2 linked regions of the Homo sapiens genome follow. The protein of the gene in region 1 interacts with the protein of each later gene in a biochemical or structural test. Each region holds a gene or a part of one and is shown in the gene's direction. Other genes may lie near its edges.

Region 1 (11,948 bases):
CCTGTCACCCAGGTAGTATGCATTGTACCCAATGTGTAGTTTTTTATCCCTAGACCCGTTCCCATCCTCCCACTTCTGAGTCTCCAAAGTCCATGATATCACTCTGTATGCCTTTGCATACACATAGCTTAGCTCCCACTTACAAGTGAGAACATACGGTATTTGGTTTTCTGTTCCTGAGTTACTTTGCTTAGAATAATGGCCTCTGGCTCCATCATAGTTGCTGCAAAAAGACATTGTTTCTTTTTTTATGGCTGAACAGTATTCCGTGGTGTGTATATATACCACACTTTCTTTGTCCACTCATTGGTCAGTGGGCACTTAGGTTGGTTCCATATCTTTGCAGTTATGAATTGTGCTGCAATAAATATACACATGCAGATTTTTTTTGATATATTGACTTCCTTTGGGTAGATACCCAGTAGTAGGATTGCTGGATCAAATTCTATCCAGTAGCATTTGAAACTGCTTTACATTAACAATGAGGGACAAAAAAAATAACAATGAGGGCTTACATTATGCTACTCTTGATACTAGACATTTTCATATCCATTACTTCATTTAAACTCCACAACCAAATTACTCAATAGGGATTGTTTTCTTTATTTTTGTAAATGAATGTGGAAACCAGCTCATAAAACTTTAAATTCCTTGCCCCAGTGTCATAAAATTACTGAGTTTGAGTGGCAGTGCTGAGATTAAAACCTAAGGCTCTAGGATTTCCAGCCCATATTTTTTCTACTGTATCATGTTCTTTCCCAAAGCACTAAAAAACATTTCCTGGGTAAATGACTGTGGGCTTGGGGACACTATGCCCACTTTCTGGCCTTCATGGGTCTAAGTTGCTTCTTTGCTTCTTCACTTTTTCTCTCTGATCCTGCTCAGATTAATCTCTAGTAAATCAGATTTCTTTCCTAGGCTGTCTTATCCCACATATATAGTAGATAATATGTCACATATTTGTGAATGTTAAAAATATTTGTTTTAGTTTTAAATCTCAAGCTCACACAGTACTTACTCTCTATGTTAACAAAAATGGTTTTTACTATTTTCTGAAGGTAACGCAGCTGTTGAAGTGAGATCCTACACTGGAACATACAACACTTGGTCTAATATTAAAGTTCGTGCCAAGAGCTCTCTAAATGTGATTGATGGATTAATTCTGCCTTTATGAAAGATGAACTTATTTTCAAGATAATAGCTAATTCTTGAATGGGCAACCTATTATGTATCAATGATTGTAATGATGGAGCATTTTAGTCATTTGTAGCTGGAAGAGCCTTAGAGATTATCTGGTTCAACCTATTCAAGAGTTAGGTAATTTAACCAAATTAACATATGTGGCGATGTGCTCATATAGTGTTCCTTCCACTGTGCTGTGTTGCCGCATATATGCTGATCTTATGTTTATGCAGTAATAGTCTTCATAATGATAAACAGCTACTGGTTCCTGGTAGGATTTTGGACGTGGATATGACTTGAAGTATGATGCCACAGCCTCAAACAAATCTGGGGTTTGAATCCCAGCTCTGTCACTTATGGACAAATTACTTAACTTCTCCAAGTTTGTTTCCCTAAGTGTAGAATGTGGATAATATCTACTTTAAAGGGCTATTGTAAGCATTAAAATAAGATCATGCGTATAAATTGATGAGATGGTGGGGAAGAAGAGGCTACCACAAAGTAGGCATTCAGTGTAAATGGTGGTAGTTTCTCCAGTATTATTAGGCTATTTGGTTTCACTTATAAAATTGCCTTCAAAGAGTTTTTTCATGGCTTTTATGAGTATTATAATATCAGAACTTCCACTCATGCAAATGTAACATTTGTGTGTTAGTCTATTCTATAGCTCTGATCGGAGTCTTTATCTTAAATGGGAAAGATTATTTTCCCTGTCATGTAACTTTAACAGAAAACGATGCTAAAATTAATTTTAAGACTGCTCTATACTATATGTATGTTATACTATATTTTTATATACTATACACAAAAATGTATAAGATGTAAAGCTTGTATTTTCAAATGTTATTGCAGTATCCAGAACAATTGCGACAATTGCTCTTGGAAGCTTCTGTGCTTTTCCACATGCTGTTCCCTGTCTCTGGAATGGAATGTTCTCTTATTCTGGCTGGCAAACTCCTGAACATAATGTAAACAGTAAGCTCAAACATCACTTGCCCTTTCCTTACCATGCCATCCTGTTTCTTCTAAACCTTATAAATGCCTTTATTATAGTACATATTGAATCATAATGTAATTATTATTTATCTCTGACTCCTTTGATTCTGGGACTGCCTTGAGGTCACGGTCTAGGTTTATTTCATCTTTCTGTCTGTTTAGTCAAATTTCCTACCCTGTGTAACTCTCAGAATCTTACTTTAAGTTAGGAAAGGCCAGTGGCTGGACAGATGCTACAGACCTCCATTGGTACAGATGCCCTTAGCTTCATGTTGGGAACAAGTGGTTCTGTTTCTTTTTGTTCCTGTGGAGAAGCATCAGAGATACAGGCAGCTGGGGATTTCTACACCTGTAATAGCAGCAGCTCAGTGATGACACAGAGACATGTTTTTTTTTTTTTTTTTTTTTTGACAGAAGGCGAAGGGGAAGCAAGGTACTTCTTACATGGCAGAGGGAAAAGGAGAGTTGGAGTGGGGGAGGGGGAGAGGGAGGAGCAGGAGCAGGGAGACGGGGAGGGAGAGGAAACTGCCCCGAAGACATGGTTTCTAAGATTTCTCCCAATGAGACAAATCACTTGTCTGGGATGTCAGGGGGAGAAGATGCAGAATCTGAGCCCCTTGTATAAATAGACAAAAGGTGAAAGCATTGGCAATAGATCAAAAAGGCATTCCACGTAGCAAAAAAATTATTTTTAAATCTGAAAATTTAAGTGAAATGCCAAGAGCAAAGAAGAGAGGCCATCAGAAAAATTTCAAAGTGACTACTCAGGTCATTGTCCTGAAATAAATGATCATTTTATTCTGGTGACTCACCCCTAGCTAGAGTCAGTACTTCATAGAAAAGACAGGAGCTGTGAGACACTTAACTGTAATCTTACCCCTTTACAGAAATGCCTCCTATAGTCAAGCTGGTCTGATGATCTCATGTCATCATGCACAAGGATTAGCAAGCCTTGAAATTTTATCCTGTCAGTGTAACTCCTCATCTAGTCTCAAGATTGCACTGGCAGTTCTTTCGCAGCTGATCGTACAGGGAGGACCAATAAGGCTCATAGAACACCCTTGGAGAATGAATGCCTCTGCTGCTGGAGGTCACAGCACCCAGAAAGTGACTAGAGGGAGCAGCTGATACCTGCTCTAGTGAGTTGTGCTATTCCTGTCACATCCTTGCAGAGGTCCAAGGGTTGCTGGCAAGTGAAGGAATATCATGCCTGTAGTTTGAAGGATAGATCACTCAACTCTCAACTATTCTCTCTTCAGCTGTGAACCATACAACGTTTTTGAAAAGCAAAGTCTGAACATTTGCATTCTATACAGAATATTACAGTTGGAAAATAGGTGTGGTGTCTAGAGAAATGCTTCTAAATGCTGCAAGCCACCCTATGTGAAGCCTAGTCTAGAAATCTGCTTTGCTTCATTTATTAACTTCATTGTATCTTTGGAAGTAGAAGTTCTTAAAAGTGTGTACAGAAGATGAGTCCTCAGCATGAGTTTCACTGCCTGTCTGTGTGAGAGGAAGTGACCTTGAGAGCAGCTGTAGCCCTAGGGGGACACCCAGGTAGAGGTGCTCACAACATGCTCTGACACCCGGTATGGCTGCATTCCCAGCTTAAATGATCACATCTGCTCTTGGTTTTTTCACTGTTTACAAAATCTGATTTCTTTAAAGGGAAGGGATGGAAAAGGTAGTCAATGCTCCTCTGAGCACCCAAAGCATCCCTCCACAAGAACAAAGAGGAAAAATCATTACTTGCTCCCAACATTACACAAAGCGCATCTCTACCAATGGAACTCTGCAGTGTCGGTCTAGCCATCAGCCTTTCCCACCTCACAGCATATTTTCTGTGGGGGTAATTTATTAGAGGGGAATTTGTTCCTTTTTACTCTTTTTACTCTTCAAATTAGTAATAGAACCCCTCATGTCATTCTAAGTGACTTAAGTTTTAAAGGGAACCAGAAAAGGAGAGAATATGCTATTGTGGCACTTCTAAAATGCAGAGTGTCCTCAAAGATGGTTATAGTGGGTAATGGGTTTCATATAAATTGCATACTAGAGTATCTCCATTTCCTCTTTTAATTTTTTAATTGGTTTTTTAAAGCTTGATATGCTGAGTTAGTTTTCATTTAAAAACAATGCTTGAGTAGGAAAGTTAAAGAAATAGAAATTGCCTGTTTTAATCTATTCATCCTGGCAGCAGGTATGTATTGTATCTGTCCAGAGTCCAAAACGTCAGCTCCCTCCACTTGCCTTCCCCATTTCACATAAACTATAAAAGTTAGAAATAATATATTATGTCATATCCTAACATCAGTTCAATGAATATAGTTTTTAAAATACCTACTATGTGCTAGATACTGAGGACAGAATGATAAAATACAAAACAAAGCTAACTAAAAACACAGTTTAACTAGTCTTGTCTACGATTACCTGCCCTAACTATAACTTCATTTAAGGGGAGATACTGCTAAAGGGAGTTCCTTCTGTGACTGCACACTCTGATACCAATATGTGACTTCTCCCTGGCTACAACTGATTAAATGAGGGAAGAAAACTGATCCAAGGGGAGTTAGTCCAATAGCTTGTAAATGGTGGGTTCTTATCAGAGTTTTCTCACTAAGTTAGAACCAAGAGGCTGAGGGTTGTGGGGGCTACTTAAGCAGAAAGTTTCATGGAGTATGGACTGTGCACCATTGTGAAGTTTCCTGTATTTCCACAGGCTGTGGGGGCAGAGAGCATCAGAGTGCTGATCAGGAAAAAAGAATGAGGCAGATGCAGACAGAGAAGCAAAGAAGCATGAGAGGATGAGAATTAGGAAGTAGACTCTTTTTTCATTTTAATTAATTTGACTAGATTATATTTCTTGCAATCAAAAGGGCCCTGTGCAGAGAAGGTCCTTATCTTCGTTCATTTTTTGTTGCTATAGCTGAATACCCGAGACTGGGTAATTTATAAAGTAAAGAAATTTATTGCTTACCATTTTAGATGCTGGGAAGTACAAGGTCAAGGGTTCTCATCTAGTGAGGGCCTTCTTGCTAGTGGGGTCTCTGTAGAGTCCTGAGGTAACACAGAGCATCACATGGTGTGGGGGTGGGATTCACCAGAGAGAGCCAAACTGACTTTTATAACAGACTCACTTTTGTGGTAACTAACCCACTCCCTTGATAGCCCATCAATCCATTAATCTAGAAATAAATTCATTCACTCATGAGGGCAGAGCTCTTGTGAACCAATCACCTCCCAGAAGTCCCACCTCTCAACACTGCTGCACTGGGGACCAAATTTCCAACACATGAACTTTTCGGGGACACATTCAAGCCACAACAGTCCTCAATAAATATTTGTTGAATCAATAAATACACAGGACATAGTGTCCTAAATGCTTGGCATGTACATGAACCAGATTTGGTCCTTGATGTCACAGAGCTTATAATATAGTGGAGGAGACAGACTTTACATGTTTGATCTTGACTGTAAAACTAGGGTCACTACTCATCATCTGATGAAGGAGGCAGACAGTAAAACAAATAACAACTATTCAACATGGTAACGTCAAAACTGAACAGAGGCTCAAGTGAAAGTTTCAATGATAGTAACCATGGCCAATGGATAGGTGAATGCATTGGAAAATTAGTATGATGCCATTAGCAAAAACATAAATTGCACTTAACTAAAGTTCATCTGGCTGAATTCTTTCCTTCCTTCCTTCCTTCCTTCCTTCCTTCCTTCCTTTCTTCCTCTATCTTTCTTTGGTTTTGAGATCTGTCTATAGTATTGTGCTAGTGCACATATTTTAATTTGGTGCAAGGCATGCTTAACAGAGTAAGTGAAAAGCTATAAAGGTTAGAGCGTGTATTAGTTTCAATGACGAAGGAGTAATAAATCATTTTGTCAGGTTGCACTCTAACATTCAAATTCCATTTTTATTATGGCTAACTAGCCAAGCATTTATAATTCTGAACTCCACAGAATGGGGAAAAAGTGTATTAACTTATAATAGATCATTGAGCTTGTTAAATGTACCTTTCCTAATTCGTACTTTTTCCCTTTTGCTGAGAAAAATGCCTTTCTGAATATATAATTTTTACAGGTCATTGGAAAGGAGTACTGCACAACAGGATTATTATAATGTGCTAAAAGATGGCACTTGTATCTCATTGCCACATAGAGAGCTCATGTGAAAACTCTTTGATCTTTGCTGGCTTTTTAGCTGAAAAGATTTGGAAATCTTTTTGGCACTGGCAAAAACAGAACTGTGGTAACTGTTTATAGTTGGTTGATTTTTAGCAATGGGTAAGAATGTCTTTGTTGAATCCAGTTTATTAATACGTAATGGGCAACATGTTGCCTTAAAGGCAAAAGCATATTTTTCTCATATCAAAAAGCTCCCTAAATTTTTGCCAATATCCAAAGATATTTTAAGATGGTCTTCATTTTCTTTTTCAGTCTGTCCTATGCTGAGAAAAAAAAATTACAACCTCTGAACTTCAGCAGTTTTTTAGGTAAAAGGAATTTTTCATGATGTGATTGATATAACTACTCAGCTGGACATAAGCTTTCAAGGGCTAAGTCCATTTGCCGATTTGTTTGCATTTCCTACTCCAACTAAAATAATTCAAAGACATGAAGTGTCTATTGTGGAAAATGCATGAATAATGCAAAAGTCATTCTCAAGTGACCTATCAGAAAGGCCTACCAGAAATGCAGTTACTGCTTTCTAATAAAATCATGAAAAACTTTTTTAAAAAGTATAACCATCTTGAATTTGTTGAGGCAATTATAAGAGAGTATATAAGGGCAAGTTTCTCCAAAAGCGGTTCTGTTTGTTTTGTTTTTTTTTAATAATTCCCATCAACAGCAATCTGTTTTCTCATTGTAGTAGTATAGGTGTTAACATAAAAGCTCAAACAGCTTGGGAGAAAAAAAAGGATATAGCAAACCTAACTGATAACTTTGCTAGTTTCAAATCATTATGATGGCCATTCATAGATGACTGAAATATTTAACATTTGAAGTAACAGAATTTTGACTTATGTTTTCATGGTTTAAGAGTTTATATTTCAAATTTTTTCACATAGTCTGTTTATAACAGTATATAAAACATGTATTAACTATATAAGTTAATAAAGTCATGAACTGATGGCCATTTTTTGGTCTTATTCATATAGTATAGGCTGTTTTGTGAATTAATCCCCTTCCCATGTGTTTGAATTCCCCACTATGTAAGGCTTAGTGGTGTTAGCATGATCCAAGGGTGGGATTTTCAGCCCTCTGACATCAAAAGGTGAAGCAGAGGACACAAAAACCCTCACTGCATCTTCCCTAGACTGGCCAGAACCACTCCATGGTCAGTGGACTCCCTTAATAGGAAGGAATGCTGGTCAGTTGTCAAAGAGCAAAAAGGGAGGGGTAGTCATGAGGTTGGTTGTAATCAGAGGTGCAACAGGTCTTTCCAAAGGGCTGGTTTCTGTTTAACTCTTAGGAAAGAACACCTAATGGTAGTTAGTGAGGAGGGGGTATAATGAGATGTGCCCAACCTCCCATCCCATCATGGCCGGGAACTCAGTTTTTAAGGTTTCCCTGAAGTCCTCTTGGCCAGGAGAGGGTCTGTTTAGTCAAATGTGGGGGGGGAGCTTAGGATTTTATTTTTATTTCCAAGTTATAATGTTGGACCATCAGAGCATGAATACAGGTTGAGTCTTTAATCTGTAAATACTTAGCAATCACCTTCTTCTCAGTAACTTTCTCTGAAGGTTGCTGATAAGCCAGTGTTCTTGATGTTTGCCCACTTACCCCTCAAGATGAGGAGTGAAGAAATTAGATTGCATTGCCAGGAATTTCCTAGAAGAAAAGGTTTTGAGGATGCATGACCTATGAGGGTGCTGAGGACCCCTTTCCACCAAACATGGACTAACTTCTGGGTTGCTCTTTCACATCTATTGTCTTGTTCGACGTACACAGAAGTGCAGAGCACAGCCGCAGCCCTCACAGCATCATCTATCTAGGTTCTGAATCCTGAATGGTCTGAGGCTCTCCTAGAGCTGAGATTCTCCTTTGCAGTTCCAGTGGAGAAAAGCACTTTCTTTGCCGAGGCAGTGTAACTTCCTTGTTCCCAAGGCTCCAACTGTTGTGGGCACATATGAGTATACATTAACATCCATGCCCAATTTATAATCACTGTTTTCCCCACATGTGTACTCAGACCTCCAAGCTTCTGAAAAATATTTCCTCTCATCTCTCAAAGAATTTTAGTACATTTGCCTGGATGCAGAAACACAAATCATGCTGGCTTTCCTACTCAATCAAAAACTGTAGCTTGAGTGGGGTGGCAAGGGTTGTCCCACAGCAGGTTTACTTGGACTCCAAAATGATGTAGAGTTTAGTGAGGCAGCTCCTTGAGTTTGAACTTAGAGCCCTTTTGGCTACCAGGGCACCTGCAGTCCTCCAAGATAGTAGAGTCTGAACCAGTTAAAGAGCCAGCTACCACAGCTTTGCAGAAACCACTGTTTCTCCTTAACTCTAGGGCTCAGCGGTTGAACTCCTTAGAATAAAACTTTCTGTCTGCGACCCTATCATTTTCTTTTGTATTTTGGCCTTCACTGAATTCCCACCCCATCCATTCCAACAGACTTGGTTATACGTGTCTGAACACCAAATGTGACAGAATTTGTGGCCTTGGATCAGGAGGCTATTTGGCCCTTATCTAAATCGGTGGCTGAGAATGGATTCCAGGGAAGTGTTTTTCTTAGGAGTACCCAAGAAGCTCAGCTCAGGTTGGGCTCCCTGTTCTATTCTGAGAACTACAAATCAAATTCAAAATGGAGCACAGAAAATTCTCATTTCTAGTTGACTTATTTGTATTTTGGTGTCCTGTGCCCTAAATATCTTCTCAAGGAAACCTTGGCTTTAAAAGTGATTGTTTACTTAAACAAATAAAACAACAACATACAAGAAAAGGCAGTAAATCCGAGCGTCCATCAACAAATGAATCAAAAAACAAATGAGATATATATGTACGGTGGCATATTATTCAGCCTTAAAAAGGAAAGAAATTTTGACACATGAGACAATATGAATGAACCTTGAAGACATTAATTATGCTGAGTGAAATAAGCCAGCCACAAAAGAACAGATATTGTATAATTCCTCTTATATTAGGTACCTAAAATAGTCAAATTGATAGAAAGTAGAATGTTGGTTGGCAGGGGCTGGCAAGGAGAGGGAAATGAAGAGAAGGTGTATGAAGGGAACAGAGTTTCAGTTGGGGAAGACGAAAAAGTTCTGACAGTGGATGATGGTGGTTGTTGCACAGCAACATGAATGTACTTAATGCCACAGAACTGTATGCTTAAAAATGGTTGAAACGGTAAATTTGATATAATGTGTATTGAACCTATTTCCAGATCAAAACAGAGAGATCTACATTCCTTTTGGTGGTGTCAAAATAAACCATTATCTTGAAATAGCCTAAATGTGTTATGTGTCCTATTGAACAGTCCGATTGCATTCTTCAAAAAAATACAGTAGTGAACATCTGAATATATATATTTGAGCACTTGGATAAATATATATGCTTTAAAAAGTCCCAGAAATGTGGTACATTATCATATAACAGTTGTACCAGTTGACACTCCCATCTGCGATATATGATCCCTGTGTCCTCATGGTCCAGCAATGGATATTATCCAATTTTTTAACCTCTGTCGATTGGATAGATGAAAAATATTGTCTGAGTGAGGTTGAACATCTTTTTTGTATGTTTATTGACTTGTAAGAGGTCACTTATTAACAAAATGTACACATATTAATGAAATTGTTTTTGTCTATCACATATTTGGCAAATGTTTTCTAAACTTATCATTTGTCTTTATTTTTTTTTTAGCCATACAGAACTTTTAAATAGTTAGGCTGACGAACTATATCCAGTTTTTCAAGATTAAAAAAATTCCCCATTTTGGCCGGGTGCAGTGGCTCACGCCTGTAATCCCAGCATTTTGGGAGGCTAAGGCAGGCGGATTGCGAGGTCAGGAGATTGAGACCATGCTGGCTAACACGGTGAAACCCTGTCTCTGCTAAAAATACAAAAAATTAGCTGGGCGTAGTGGCGGGCACCTGCAGTCCCAGCTACTCAGGAGGCTGAGGCAGGAGAATGGCATGAAACTGGGAGGTGGAGCTTGCAGCGAGCCAAGATCACACCACTGTACTCCAGCCTGGGCAACAGAGCGAGACTCTGTCTCAAAAAAAAAAAAAATTCCCCATGTGGGTTTTATTCTTTTTTTTTTTTTTTTTTTTTTCTGAGAAAGGGTCTCTCTGTCCCCAGGCTGGAGTGCATGTCATGGTCTTGGCTCACTGCAGCCTCGACTTCTTGGGCTCAATGATCCTCCCCACTCAGCCCCTCAAGTAGGTGTTACTATAGGCGTGCGCCACCACCAACTAATTTTTATTTTTTTATTTTTTATTTGTAGAGATGGGGTCTCACCATGTTGCCTCATCCTGCCTTGTGCTCCTGGGTGCAAGTGATCTGCCCACCTGGGCCTCCCAAAGTGCTGGGATTGCAGACATGAGCCACTGCAGCCAGCCTAGGTCTAATATTTATATACATGTGTGCTTTTTCCTGGGGAAATAGTTTCTATTGTTTATCGGATTGTCAAATGGAAGGGAAAAAATTAAGAATAATTGCATTGCATGACATGTAAAATATTTGTTGAATGAATGCTTGCAGGAGACTGTATTTCCTCTTCAAAGATTTCTTTCAATCTCTATATACCATCTCTTCTTGAAAGATTTTTCCATTAGTAACTTCCAGTTAACAGTCTGTTGTTTTATTGTCAGATGTGTAAATATTTTAAAAATTGTTTCTTAGCACTTCCTGTTCCCTTTTTTTTGGAATCTTTCAAGTTTGAGAGGCAAAAGTACTCCTCAAGGCTGGAGAAGCTACTTGGTTGGGTTGTGGCCTACTGTGGTGCCATTGATTTCCCCAAACATTAAGTCCTTGCTGAGCCTCAGCCAAAATCAACAGCCGTCATGTCTTCAATTACCTTGGAGCCCAGGCTGCCACGGGGAAACAGGGGTCACATTCAGCCTTACTTGGCTCCTTAAGCAGCGACACTATCTGTGACTAAGCAAGTGACTGGTGCGATGGGGGAGGAGGGATGTAATGGTGGAGCTGTGAAAACTTGCAAATGTGATCACCAAACTTTTAATCAATCTAGAAGGAAGCTTTTTTTTTTCTCCCTAAGTATTTGAAGTGCCCACTGGTGTCTTTGGGGTTGGGGAATTAACATAACTTCCTTCTCTCACAGTCCTGTCTTCCAGTCTCCCAGTGGGGTTTCTCTTTGAAATAAGAGTTGTGTGTGTGGAAAGGATTCAGAAACAAGGCTTGGAAGCCAAGAAGAAAGGCAACCGGCCTTCCTCTCCAACGAGTAACCAAATACAGCTGTAACTTTAGACGGGGGTGCTTGGGAAAAGGATTTTTATTATTTTTTTTATTATTTTTTTAAAAGTAAGTGTACATTGCTGAGAAAAGAATCTAAAATGTAGCTTAGGAAATCTAGCTTTGATGCTATAGTTCAATATATTATGCAAAATTTAATAAGATAGCTGATTTTTTTTTCCTTAGGAAAAGAAAGCTCACAATTAACAACTGAAAAAAAAAAAAAAAAACCTAAAGGATAAAATACCAACTTAGAAATACAAACCAGAGATTCCCAACCATCCAGAAGGTACAATATAGCTACAAGCAAAAAGAAAAGGAAAAAAAGAAAAAAGCAAAT
Region 2 (11,948 bases), on another chromosome or scaffold:
AAGATAGGGGGGAGAGTCTGACCATCTCCCCTTTTCCCAGTGGGGTGCAATGTACGCAAGTAGGCCCTGGGCATAACTCTGCCTGTAGGTGTGTCCAGTTCTGTGTAGCAGATTTGTGTGTGTCTGGAGGTCTGTGGGTGTGTCTGTGGGTGTTTATGTCTGTGTGCCTGTCTATCCCTAGGTTTCTGTTTACCTATGCCAATCTCTGCGTCTGGTCCTCTGTCTGTAGATGTGGGTCGGTGGCTCCGTGGTTTGTGTGTCTGAATGTGTACTTGTGTAGCTGAGGGGTTGCAGTCCGTTTGTGGGGCCTGTATGGGTGGTGGATCGGGATGTCTTTACACAAGAAGGGAATCTGTGTTGACCTGGTCTCTCCAGAGTGTGTATTTGGGGCTCTGAACACCTTTGTCGGGGTCTGTGTCTGTCTGTCTGTGGGTCCTCGAAGCTGTGTTGGGTTTTCTGTCTGTGTTTTCCTCTCTGAGGACCCGAGTCATGTCTCTTCTCCGTTTTCTCTCTTTCATTCATCCCTGGCCCCCACCCATCCCACCTTTCTTTTTTTTCCGTTCTCACCCACCCCGCCCGCCAGTGGATCCGGGACCCAGGGAGGGCCGCCCCCCGGGCCTGGTGGCACTGAGCAGGGCCCCCCAGCCCCCACCTCCTGCCCCACGAGATGAACCTCCTCTACCGAAAAACCAAGCTGGAGTGGAGGCAGCACAAGGAAGAGGAGGCCAAGAGGAGGTAAGGCTGCACCCCAGACTGCTCCCTTCCCTTCCGCACCTCTGCCTGCCCCCTCACTGGGCCACAGCCCTTCTCGGGGGCCGGCAGCCTTGTCATGAGTGAGCTCTCTGATCTCAGAGTCAGTACGGAATGGCCAGGATTGCACACACTGTCCTGGCCCAACTCCTGCTCTCCTGTGGGGGGGTTTACAGCCTAGGAGCACCCCTTTGGTTGTTCCCCATCCCCAGAGGCCCGAGTCACTCCTTCCTGACTCACCTCTGGCCTGTAGCCCTTCTCCTTTCTGCAAATTTGGGGCTGGCTGCGGGCTCTCCTGTCACCTGACCTTGGAAGGGGCAGGCCCCGCCTCTCTCCCAGGGTCTAGGGAAGGGGTCATTTCAGGGGCATCAGAGAACATCCACTTGGCCTCCTCCCAGTTTTCCCTGCTGGGGGAGGTGAGTGGTCAAGTGATGGGGTTGTGTGTGTGGTGGGCAGACATGCAGGCTGGGCCTTGCCAAAGAGCCAGGGCAGGGGACGACCTCCAGACCCCTGCAATCCCTGTCTGCCTCCCCGCTTGCCCTTCCAGGGACCTGGGGCCTGGCCTCTCCCATCCTTCTCTCCTTCTCCTCTTCTCTCCCATTGACTTCACAGCCACTTGGAGCCTGACTCACAGCCACCTCCCTTTTCCTTCCTCGCAACTGTGGAGTTTAATTCTTGTTGTTAATTAGATTAATCAGAGTGATCGCTGCAGCGATCTCTCCCTAATGAAGGGCTAGTAGACAGGGCCTTAATGAGTGCCCACCCCACACAGCTCTCCTCTCTTCCCTGCCAGCCGCCCCCCCAACCCTCTGCCACCCTCCACTCAGACAGAAGCTCAGGGACAGTGGAATGGAATGGGGGTGAGCCGGGGAGGCTGACAGAGAGAGAACAGCACCAGGGGAGAGGGAGGAAGAAGGATGGGCCAGGGAGGGAGGCTGCTCTGGTCCTGGAGGGGCACATCCTGCATCTGGGAGAGGAGGTGTGCCGTGGGGGCAGAGGTCACAGTGGCTGGGCAGGAGGGGTAACCAGAGGCCAGGTGTGGGCCACTGTGAGAGTGAGAGGGGCCAAGGAGCTGTGGGGGGCAGGCGTGTCCATCTGTGTTACCTGGGTTTGTATCTCTACCTCTGCACAAGGCTGTCCACACAGGTGCCCAGGCTGGGATCCGCCAGCCCCAGGGATGCTCCCCTGCAGGCATACTCACCCCTCTTCTCATCCCTGCCCCCAACTGCCTTGTGTTTTTAAAGCCCAAGATTCTGCCTGAAGCCCCTTCATTGGTGCCCTGGACCTTCTGGCAACCCTGTCCCCACCCAGGCTCCCGTCCTCTTCCCTGGGAAGCCACAGGGTTGCTGACACCTCTTGGGGTGGAGAAGGGGGATGCCCAGGTCCGAGGCCCTTCCTCCACTCCATCGTGGCCTTCTCTCCCCAGCTCCAGTAAGGAGGTGGCCCCCGCTGGCTCGGCTGGGCCCGCGGCCGGCCAGGGGCCTGGGGTCCGCGTGCGGGACATCGCCTCGCTGCGGCGCTCCCTCAGGATGGGTTTCATGACGATGCCCGCCTCCCAGGAGCACACCCCGCACCCCTGCCGCAGCGCCATGGCCCCACGCTCCCTCTCCTGCCACTCGGTGGGCAGCATGGACAGTGTCGGGGGTGGCCCTGGCGGGGCCAGTGGGGGCCTCACAGAGGACAGCAGCACCCGAAGACCCCCTGCCAAGCCCCGGAGACACCCCAGCACCAAGCTCAGCATGGTGGGGCCTGGGTCTGGGGCAGAGACGCCCCCCAGCAAGAAAGCAGGTGAGATACCCCCTATCTCTCCCTGGGGTGGAGCTGGGAGCTGGGAGGATCTATTCCACGCCCGGGGAGGCTTGCCGGGAGGGTTCATTCAGGGAAGAACCAAGGAAGTGGAAGATTCCATTCTCAAAAGGAATTGGGGGGGTCCTTTTGGATGGGCCTGAGATGAACCATTCAAGGGCAGGGGACACTCCCTGAAAAGTTCTTGAGAAAGGGGTGGTGGCCTCAGAGGGACAATGAAGGTAGGAGCTGCGAATTCTGGAGAATACGTTAGAAAGACTGAGGGCTGTGGGACAAGCCCCGTGGCTCACGCCCGTAATCTCAGCACTTTTTTTTTTTTGAGACAGAGTCTCGCTCTGTTGCCCAGGCAGGAGTGCAGTGGTGCGATCTCAGCTCACTGCATCCTCCGCCTCCCAGGTTCAAGCAGTTCTCCTGCCTCAGCCTCCCAGGTAGCTGGGATTACAGGCGTCCGTCACCACGCCCGGCTAATTTTTTGTATTTTTAGTAGAGACAGGGTTTCGTCTTGTTGGCCAGGCTGACAAGGCCAGGCTTGCTGGCCTCAGGTGATCCACCCACCTCGGCCTCCCAGAGTGCTGGGATTACAGGCGTGAGCCACTGTGCTTGGCCAATTAATTGACGTTTTAAAAAGACCAAGGGCTGACTAGTAGAAAAGGAACCTACAGCTGGGCATGGTGGCTGATGCCTGGAATCCTAGCACTTTAGGAGGCCGAGGCAGGAGGATCCCTTGAGCCCAGGAATTTGGGACCAGTCTGGGCAACATGGCAAGACCCATCTCTATTAAAAAATAAAAAAGAAATGAAGAAACCTCCTGGGGCTGTAAGTTGAGGAATGTGGGGAAAAGGAAGAGGCAGATATGTCCTTGCAGAAGGGTCAAGGGATCAGAATGGGCTCCTCCCACTTGCTCCCCTCATTAAAAGCCTGGTTTATTTTTCTCTTTCTTGTCCTGTCCAGGCTCACAGAAGCCAACCCCAGAGGGCCGAGAGTCCAGCCGGAAGGTTCCTCCGCAGAAGCCCAGGCGAAGCCCTAACACCCAGCTCTCTGTCTCCTTCGATGAGTCCTGCCCCCCAGGCCCCTCTCCTCGAGGGGGGAACCTGCCTCTTCAGCGCCTCACTAGGGGGTCCCGAGTAGCTGGGGACCCTGATGTGGGTGCCCAGGAAGAGCCTGTGTACATTGAGATGGTGGGGGACGTCTTTAGGGGAGGAGGACGAAGTGGAGGAGGCCTGGCTGGGCCCCCTCTTGGGGGTGGGGGCCCGACCCCTCCAGCGGGCGCCGACTCGGACTCTGAAGAGAGTGAGGCCATCTATGAAGAGATGAAGTACCCGCTGCCGGAAGAGGCTGGGGAAGGCCGGGCCAATGGCCCTCCACCATTGACGGCAACATCCCCGCCACAACAGCCTCACGCCCTTCCGCCCCATGCCCACCGCCGCCCAGCTTCAGCCCTCCCGAGCCGGAGGGACGGGACGCCCACCAAGACCACTCCTTGTGAAATCCCCCCGCCCTTCCCCAACCTCCTTCAGCACCGGCCTCCACTCCTGGCCTTCCCCCAAGCCAAGTCTGCTTCCCGAACCCCTGGCGATGGGGTCTCAAGGCTACCTGTCCTCTGCCACTCCAAGGAGCCAGCCGGCTCCACCCCAGCTCCCCAAGTGCCTGCACGGGAGCGGGAGACGCCTCCCCCACCGCCTCCACCTCCTGCTGCCAACCTGCTGCTGCTGGGACCATCGGGCCGGGCCCGGAGCCACTCGACACCGTTGCCACCCCAGGGCTCTGGCCAGCCCCGGGGGGAGCGGGAGCTCCCCAACTCCCACAGCATGATCTGCCCTAAGGCGGCGGGGGCGCCGGCAGCCCCCCCTGCCCCGGCCGCCTTGCTCCCCGGCCCCCCCAAGGACAAGGCCGTGTCTTACACCATGGTGTACTCGGCGGTCAAGGTGACCACGCACTCTGTCCTGCCAGCTGGTCCACCCCTGGGTGCTGGGGAGCCAAAGACGGAGAAGGAGATCTCGGTCCTCCATGGGATGCTGTGTACCAGCTCAAGGCCCCCTGTGCCAGGGAAGACCAGCCCCCACGGTGGGGCCATGGGCGCAGCAGCTGGGGTCCTCCACCACCGCGGCTGCCTGGCCTCCCCCCACAGCCTTCCGGACCCAACTGTAGGCCCCCTGACCCCGCTGTGGACCTACCCAGCCACAGCAGCTGGGCTCAAGAGACCCCCTGCCTATGAGAGCCTCAAGGCTGGGGGGGTGCTGAATAAGGGCTGTGGTGTGGGGGCCCCATCCCCCATGGTCAAGATCCAGCTGCAGGAGCAAGGGACCGATGGGGGTGCTTTTGCCAGCATCTCCTGTGCCCACGTCATCGCCAGCGCAGGGACACCAGAGGAGGAAGAAGAGGAGGTGGGCGCCGCGACATTTGGGGCAGGCTGGGCCCTGCAGAGGAAGGTCCTCTATGGAGGGAGAAAAGCAAAGGAGTTGGACAGTGAGTGAGGGGTGGGGAGTGGGGGCTGGCATCAGGGGTGGGGGGCAGCTGGGGATGCCTGCGATGGTTTGGGGGAGGTGTTGGAGGGGTTATTTGGAAGTCACAGCCTTGAGTCTGGGATGTTTTCTAGGAGACCAGAGAGGTGGGGGTGGGCGATAGACAGAAAGACCGGGGTCCCCCAGTGTGCGCTGGAGGGGCAGGAAGGTCTGGGAGGCGAAGGGGGTCAAATCTGGCCCTGTCCTGCTCTGCTCCCTGCCCCTCCCTTCCCGGGGCTGCAGGGGTGTGTGCTTGTGAGTGTGCGCACCAGGAACTAAACACAGCTGCCTCCCAGCTGTTACCATGGCAACCCATCCAGACAGGAGGGAGAGGAGAGGGAGGCCCCTACCGTTGCCTGGCAACGCAATGCTCTGCCAGGCCTCCTCTCAGAGATGAGCTTAGTTCACAGGCAGCCCTTCCCCCCAGCGCTCCCCCTTCTGGGCTCAGGAATTGGGATTCTCCCCCTACAGGTCTTGATCCCAGGGGGATGGTCATTCTCGCCCTATCTGGAGATGGAGGGGCTTGGAAGCTAAAGCTGCGGTTGGGGAGGCCCCTCTGACCAGGGAAAAGGGTTTGGATGCAGCACATAGACATGATTCTCAGCCCCAAGAGATGGTACCAATGGGTGGAAAGGAAGGGGTGTGTGTGTGTTTGTATGTATGTTGGGGGAGTGTGAAGGAGCCCCATCCCAGCCGTTACTTGCAAAAGGGGCAATTGTGTCTCCTGGTCCACCCATACTGCAGCATGTGTGGCCAGAGGGACAGAATGACGCCTCCAACATGCAGGCACACAGCTCTCCTTGTCATCCCAGCAGAGGTCGAGGACGGTGCCCGGGCCTGGAATGGCAGTGCCGAGGGTCCAGGCAAGGTGGAGCGTGAGGACAGGGGCCCTGGGACATCGGGGATCCCAGTGAGAAGCCAGGGGGCAGAGGGACTGCTGGCCAGGATCCACCATGGAGACCGAGGAGGGAGCCGCACCGCGCTGCCCATTCCCTGCCAGACCTTCCCCGCCTGCCACCGCAATGGAGGTGACGCGGCCTGCACACACCTGTGCACAGCGGGGCTGGCTGGGGGATCTCCCGGGGTCTAGCTGCACCTGTCCTGACTTCCTCTCACCTGTTCACGTCTGTGCCCAGGGCCCTAAATCCTCATACCACATCTCCACCCCTTTTTCCCTTCTGATGAGGCAGGGGCAGCCTGGACCATTCAAGGGCAGGGGACTGGGAACTAGGGGAGGGGTACCTGAGGCCCCTGCACTCCTCACTCCTCCTTCTTCCACCTCAGACTTCACGGGAGGCTACCGCCTGGGGCGCTCCGCCTCCACCTCCGGAGTCCGGCAGGTCGTGCTCCACACACCCCGGCCCTGCAGCCAGCCCAGGGATGCCCTGAGCCAGGTGAGGCTTGGTTTTTCTTTTATTTGTGAAGGAGCAGGTGGAGAAGGCTTGAATATGCAAAGAAAAGCAATAAAGGGGCCAGGGCTGGGCACAGTGGCTCATGCCTGTAATCCCAGCACTTTGGGAGGCCAAGGTGGGAGGGTCACTTGAGGCCAGAAGTTCATTAGCTTGAGCAACATAGTGAGACCCTGTCTCTATTTTTTCTTTTTTTTAAAAGAAGGCTAGTTGCAGTGGCTCACACCTGTAATCCCAATGCTTTCAGAAGCCAAGGCAGGTAGATTGCTTGAGCCCAGGAGGTCGAGACCAGCCTGGACCACATAGTGAGATCCCATCTCTATAAAAAATGCAAAATGTAGTCAGGTGTGCCGTCGCAAGCCTGAATTCCCAGCTACTCTGGAGGTTGAGGTAGGAAGATGGCTTTACCCTGGGAGGTGGAGGTTGCATTGAGCCATGATCACGCTACTGCGTTCCAGTCTGAGCCACAGAGTGAGACCCTGTCTTAGAAGAAAAAAAAAAAAAGAAAGAAAGGGGCCAGGCAGGGTGCGGTGGCTTACGCCTGTAATCACAGCACTTTGGGAGGCCGAGGCGGGCAGATCACTTGAGGTCAGGAGTTTGAGACCAGCCTGGCCAATGTGGTGAAACCCTGTCTCTACTAGAAATACAAAAATTAGGGCCAGGTGCGGTGGCTCATGCCTGTAATCCCAGCAGTTTGGGAGGCTGAGGCGAGTGGATCACAAGGTCAGGAGTTCAAGACTAGCCTGACCAACATAGTGAAATCCCATCTGTACTAAAAATACAAAAATTAGCCGGGCGTGGTAGCGCACGCCTGTAGTCCCAGCTACTCGGGAGGCAGAGGCATAAGAATCGCCTGAACCCGGGAGACGGAGGTTGCAGTAAGCCAAGATCGCACCACTGCACTCCAGTGGCCTGGGCAACAGAGAGAGACTCTGTCTCAAAAAAAACCAAAAAACAAAAAACAAAAACCCCACAGAAATTAGCTGGACATTGGGGCAGGCACCCGTAATCCCAGCTACTCGGGAGGCTGAGGCAGGAGAATTGCTTGAACCCGGGAGACGGAGGCTGCAGTGAGCCAAGATCATGCCACTGCACTCCAGCCTGGGCGACAGAGTTAGACTCTGTCTCAAAAAAAAAAAAAGGGGCCAGGCAGACTGGGGCCTGAGCCAGCGCAGACAGCGGGAACCCAGGAATGAGAGTGAGGGGGTTGGGAGAGGATCTGGGAAGGGTTTGAGGGTTTGCTTAAGATGGGCAGCAAGGTAGGGCCCAGCTTGGAGATCAGTCAGGGCCACCACTAGCCAACAGCACACCTTTGTGCGATTTAGGAAAAAGACCTCCCCACTGGGCACTATGTCTTGTGCCTGCAATCCCAGAACTGTGGGAGGCAGAGACGGGAGGATCGCTTGAACCCAGGAGGCTGAGGTTGCAATGAACTACGATCCCACCACAGCACTCTATCCTGGGTGTAAGGGCAAGACCGTGTCTCAAAAGAAATAAAAATAAAGAGGTCAAGCATGGTAGCTTACGCCTATAATCCTAGTACTTTGGGAGGCCGAGCCAAGAGAAGTGGTTGAGCCTAGGAATTCTGTACCAGCCTGGGCGACATAGGGAGACCCTGTCTTTACAAAAAATTTAAAAATTATCCAGACATGCTGGTGCATGCTTGTGGTTCCAGCAACTCTGAAGGCTGAGGCAGGAGAATCACTTGAGCCTGGGAGGTGGAGGTTGCAGTGAGCCATGGTCGTTCCACTGCACTCCAGCCTGGGTGGCAGAGGGAGAACCTGTCAAAAGAAAGAAAAAGAGAGAGAGTGAGAGAAAGAAGGAAGAAAGAGAGAAGGAGAGAAAGAGAGAAAGAAAGCAAGCAAGAAAGAAAAGAAAGCAAGAAAGAAAAGAGAAAGAAAGAAAGGGAGGAAAGGAGGAAGGGAGGGACCTTGTCTACCCTTGCCCCAGCTGGACACGGTAGTTGATACCTGTGATCCCAGTGCTTTGGGAGGCCAAGATGAGAGGATCCCTTGAGGCCAGGAGTTCAAGACCAGGCTTGGCAACAAAGCAAGATCCCATAAATACAAAAATAAACTTTAATTTAATTTTTTAACAATTAGCTGGTGTAGTGGTAAATGCCTGTAGTCCCAGCTACTTGGGAGGGAGGCTGACACTGGAGGATTGCTTGAGCCCAGGAGGTCGAGGCTGCAGTGAGCTATGATTGCACCACTGCACTCTGGCCTGGGCGACAGAGCCAGACCCTGTCTCAAAAAGACAAAAGAAAGAAAAAAAAGGGGAGATCCCTTCTAGGGGGACCAACTTAAAAAATGCACCTGTCTAGGAAGACTAGGGAGTGGCTGGGCCAAAGCTGCGCAAGTTGGATTTTGGCCCCCATGGGCCCCACAGCCAGAGGGAGCCAGCAGAGGCCGTTGGGGGGCAAGCAAGGACTTGCTTCTGAGGGGAGACGTGGGTCTCGGCAGTGCGGACCCGTCCGGTCATGCTGAGGTCCCCGACCTTACCCGCGTTTTCCTTTCTCCCCCGCCCGCGGCACAGCCCCACCCCGCGCTGCCGCTGCCTCTGCCCCTGCCGCCCCAGCCGGCCCGCGAGCGTGACGGGAAGCTGCTGGAGGTGATCGAGCGCAAGCGCTGCGTGTGCAAGGAGATCAAGGCGCGCCACCGCCCGGACCGAGGCCTCTGCAAGCAGGAGAGCATGCCCATCCTCCCCAGCTGGCGGCGGGGACCCGAGCCCCGCAAGTCCGGCACCCCGCCCTGCCGCCGGCAGCACACGGTCCTCTGGGACACCGCCATCTGAGGCGGGCGGGGGGGTACCGGGGCGCCTGGACTGGGGAGGGGGCGGGCACGCCTGGCTCTCCCGGGAGCCTCGCCTTGAGAGACATTGAAAGACTACGTGGGAGAGTGCCAGGGAGAACCCCTGCCCTCCAACCTACCCCCCGGGATGGGGAGAGTCTGCCAGGCCCATTGGGCTTAGGATGCCAACAGCGCTGCTGAGAAACGGAGGAGGAGGAGGGTTTGCTTGAGGTTGGGGCGAGAGTCGCTCTGGCTGTTCTTCCCGCTGGGCGTTGTACACCCCTCCTCCTGAACCAAGCCAGAGGTCAGCATGGGGAAGGGAGGAAGGAAGGGATGGGAGGAAGAGGGGGGTGGGTGAGCTGAAAGAGAGGGACTAGAGTGCCAGATGGAGGAGCTCTTTTCTAGAGAGCCGGGAGTTGGGGAGGGGGTATTTATTTTGTTATTTATTTCAGTCTGGAGGGCGATTCTGGGCCTTTCTGACCTACTCCTGAGCTAGGAGTGGAGAATCAGGGCCAAGTTTGCACTCTCCCCAATGCCAATGCCTAAAGGCCCCGCCGTCCATGCCACCCCACAGCCAAGGAGGGGTCTGCATGGGGAGTGGACCGAGAGAAGAAGGGGCCCAGGGAAGCAGAGGGCCCAAGACCATTCACAGTATTTACAATTTGCCAGAATTTGGTAGTCAGTGTGGCCTGCTCTGAATCAGGCATCTTATTTAGTTCTGGGGTGAGGGTCTAGTGCCAGGGATGGGCAGGATGATGGGGGAGGAGGAGGGAAATTTTAGCGGGTGGAGGGGGTGGGCAGGGTATTTATTTAAATTAAAAAACAAAACAGAAGAGATGTCAGGAACTTTTTTTTAATTCCTTTCTTTTCAGAATAATATATTAAAAGACTCATGATCCTAAAGCTGGCTTCTTCTATTTCACAGCGTGCTCTGCTATTCTTACACTTGCTCCTTTTCCCATCTTGCCCCTGGTTGGTGGGAGTTGAAGGTTGTGCGGGGAGGGGTGAGTAGCTGTGGCCAAGTCACAGGGCGAGGTGGAGTTCCAGGTAAGTCTTTGGGAATGCACTGGGCCATGACTCCATTAGCATTTTTTTTGTGCACAGAATGTGTTCTTGGCATTGCACTGATGCAGAAGGAATATTTGGGCATGAAGCTTGCCTTCAAGTACCTTGTGATCTACTCAGATGACCTCCACTGAGATGACAATAAACTGTTGAAGGAGTAAGAGAGGGGGGACAGGGCCAAGCGTGGTGGCTCACACCTGTAATTCCAGCACTTTGGGAGGTCGAGGTGGGCAGATCACCTGAGGTTAGGAGTTCAAGACCAGCCTGACCAACATGGTAAAACCTTATCTCTACTAAAAAAAAAAATACAAAAATTAGCCGGGTGTGGTGGCGATATATCCCAGCTACTTGGGAGGCTGAGGCAGGAGAATCACTTGAACTCAGGAAGTGGAGGTTGCAGTGAGCTGAGATCATGCCACTGCACTTCAGCCTGGGCGACAGAGCGAGACTCTGTCTCAACAACAACAATGAAAGAAAAGAAAAAAGAGGGGGTACAGGGCTGGAATCATCTAAGAAGGCTTCCTGCAAAGTTACCCTAAAAGGACAGGTAAGCTAGTCTGGGCAACATAGAGAAACCCCATCTCTACAAAAAATACAAAAATTAGCCAGGTGTGAAGGCATGCGCCTTTAGTCCCAGATACTCAGGAAGCTGAGGTGGGAGGATGGCTGGAACCTAGAAGGCAGAGGCTGCAGTGAGCAGAGATCATGCCACTGCACTCCAGCTTGGGCAACAGAATGCGATCCTGTCTCAAAAAAAAAAAAAAAAAAAAGGACAGGTGAAGTTTGGGGAGGGGAAGAGGCAAACTCCCAAGGTCACGGTCATGGTTTTGATTGTCTATGGAACAGTAGGAGATGGGGGCAGGGGGAGGTAGGAAGTATGTTTAAATGATGGTGATGGCATTAAGAGGTCCAGCCATGGGACAGATCACCTGAGGTTGGGAGTTCGAGACCAGCCTGACCAACATGGAGAAACCCCGTCTCTACTAAAAAATACAAAAAAATTAGCTGGGCATGGTGGCGCATGCCTGTAATCCCAGCTACTCAGGAAGCTGAGGCAGGAGAATCGCCAGAACCCGGGAGGCAGAGGTTGCAGCAGTGAGCCGAGATCACGCCATTGCACTCCAGCCTGGGCAACAAGAGCGAAACTCCATCTCAAAAAAGAAGGGGGTCCAGCCATGGTGAAGCGGGCCACAAGGCAAGACTCAGGTCCTCACTAGGGAAGCCAGGGGAATCCTGCTGGGAGGTGATCTGTCACCAGGGAGGAGGATAAGGAGGATGCCTGGGAGGATGGAGGGCTAGGGACAGTTGCAAGAGGCCACTGAAAGGAAACCTTAGGATGGGAGTGAAGGAGCAGAATTGGTCATACAAGAAGCCCAAGTTTGGAGGTCTGGTGATCGGGGAACTGACAGAGTGAGGCAGGTGGGCTTGAGAGTGACTTTGGAGGAAGAACATTGAATTTGAAGCAATGATGAATATTTAGGTTGAATGGTTTGTTACTGAATAGAACAGAGTTTCGGAAAATGTGGTGGATAGCCAGACGTGGTGGCTCACGCCTGTAATCCCAGCACTTCGGGAGGCCCGAGGCAGGAGGATCACTTGAGGCCAGGAGTTCAAGACCAGCCTGGGCA

Evidence for each region.
Region 2: the proteins of NCKAP1 (region 1) and NYAP1 form a complex in vitro, tested with the Homo sapiens proteins (one study listed by BioGRID).

The regions. Positions count from the first base shown.
Region 1 is NC_000002.12:182,906,809-182,918,756, reverse strand, and holds the end of NCKAP1 (nck-associated protein 1), read left to right. Parts: 3' UTR 1-9,642; downstream 9,643-11,948. UniProt on the Homo sapiens protein: Part of the WAVE complex that regulates lamellipodia formation. The WAVE complex regulates actin filament reorganization via its interaction with the Arp2/3 complex. Actin remodeling activity is regulated by RAC1.
Region 2 is NC_000007.14:100,484,645-100,496,592, forward strand, and holds the end of NYAP1 (neuronal tyrosine-phosphorylated phosphoinositide-3-kinase adapter 1), read left to right. Parts: intron 1-583; 5' UTR 584-667; coding exon 668-735; intron 736-2,176; coding exon 2,177-2,538; intron 2,539-3,507; coding exon 3,508-5,022; intron 5,023-5,872; coding exon 5,873-6,085; intron 6,086-6,341; coding exon 6,342-6,451; intron 6,452-9,001; coding exon 9,002-9,259; 3' UTR 9,260-10,158; downstream 10,159-11,948. UniProt on the Homo sapiens protein: Activates PI3K and concomitantly recruits the WAVE1 complex to the close vicinity of PI3K and regulates neuronal morphogenesis.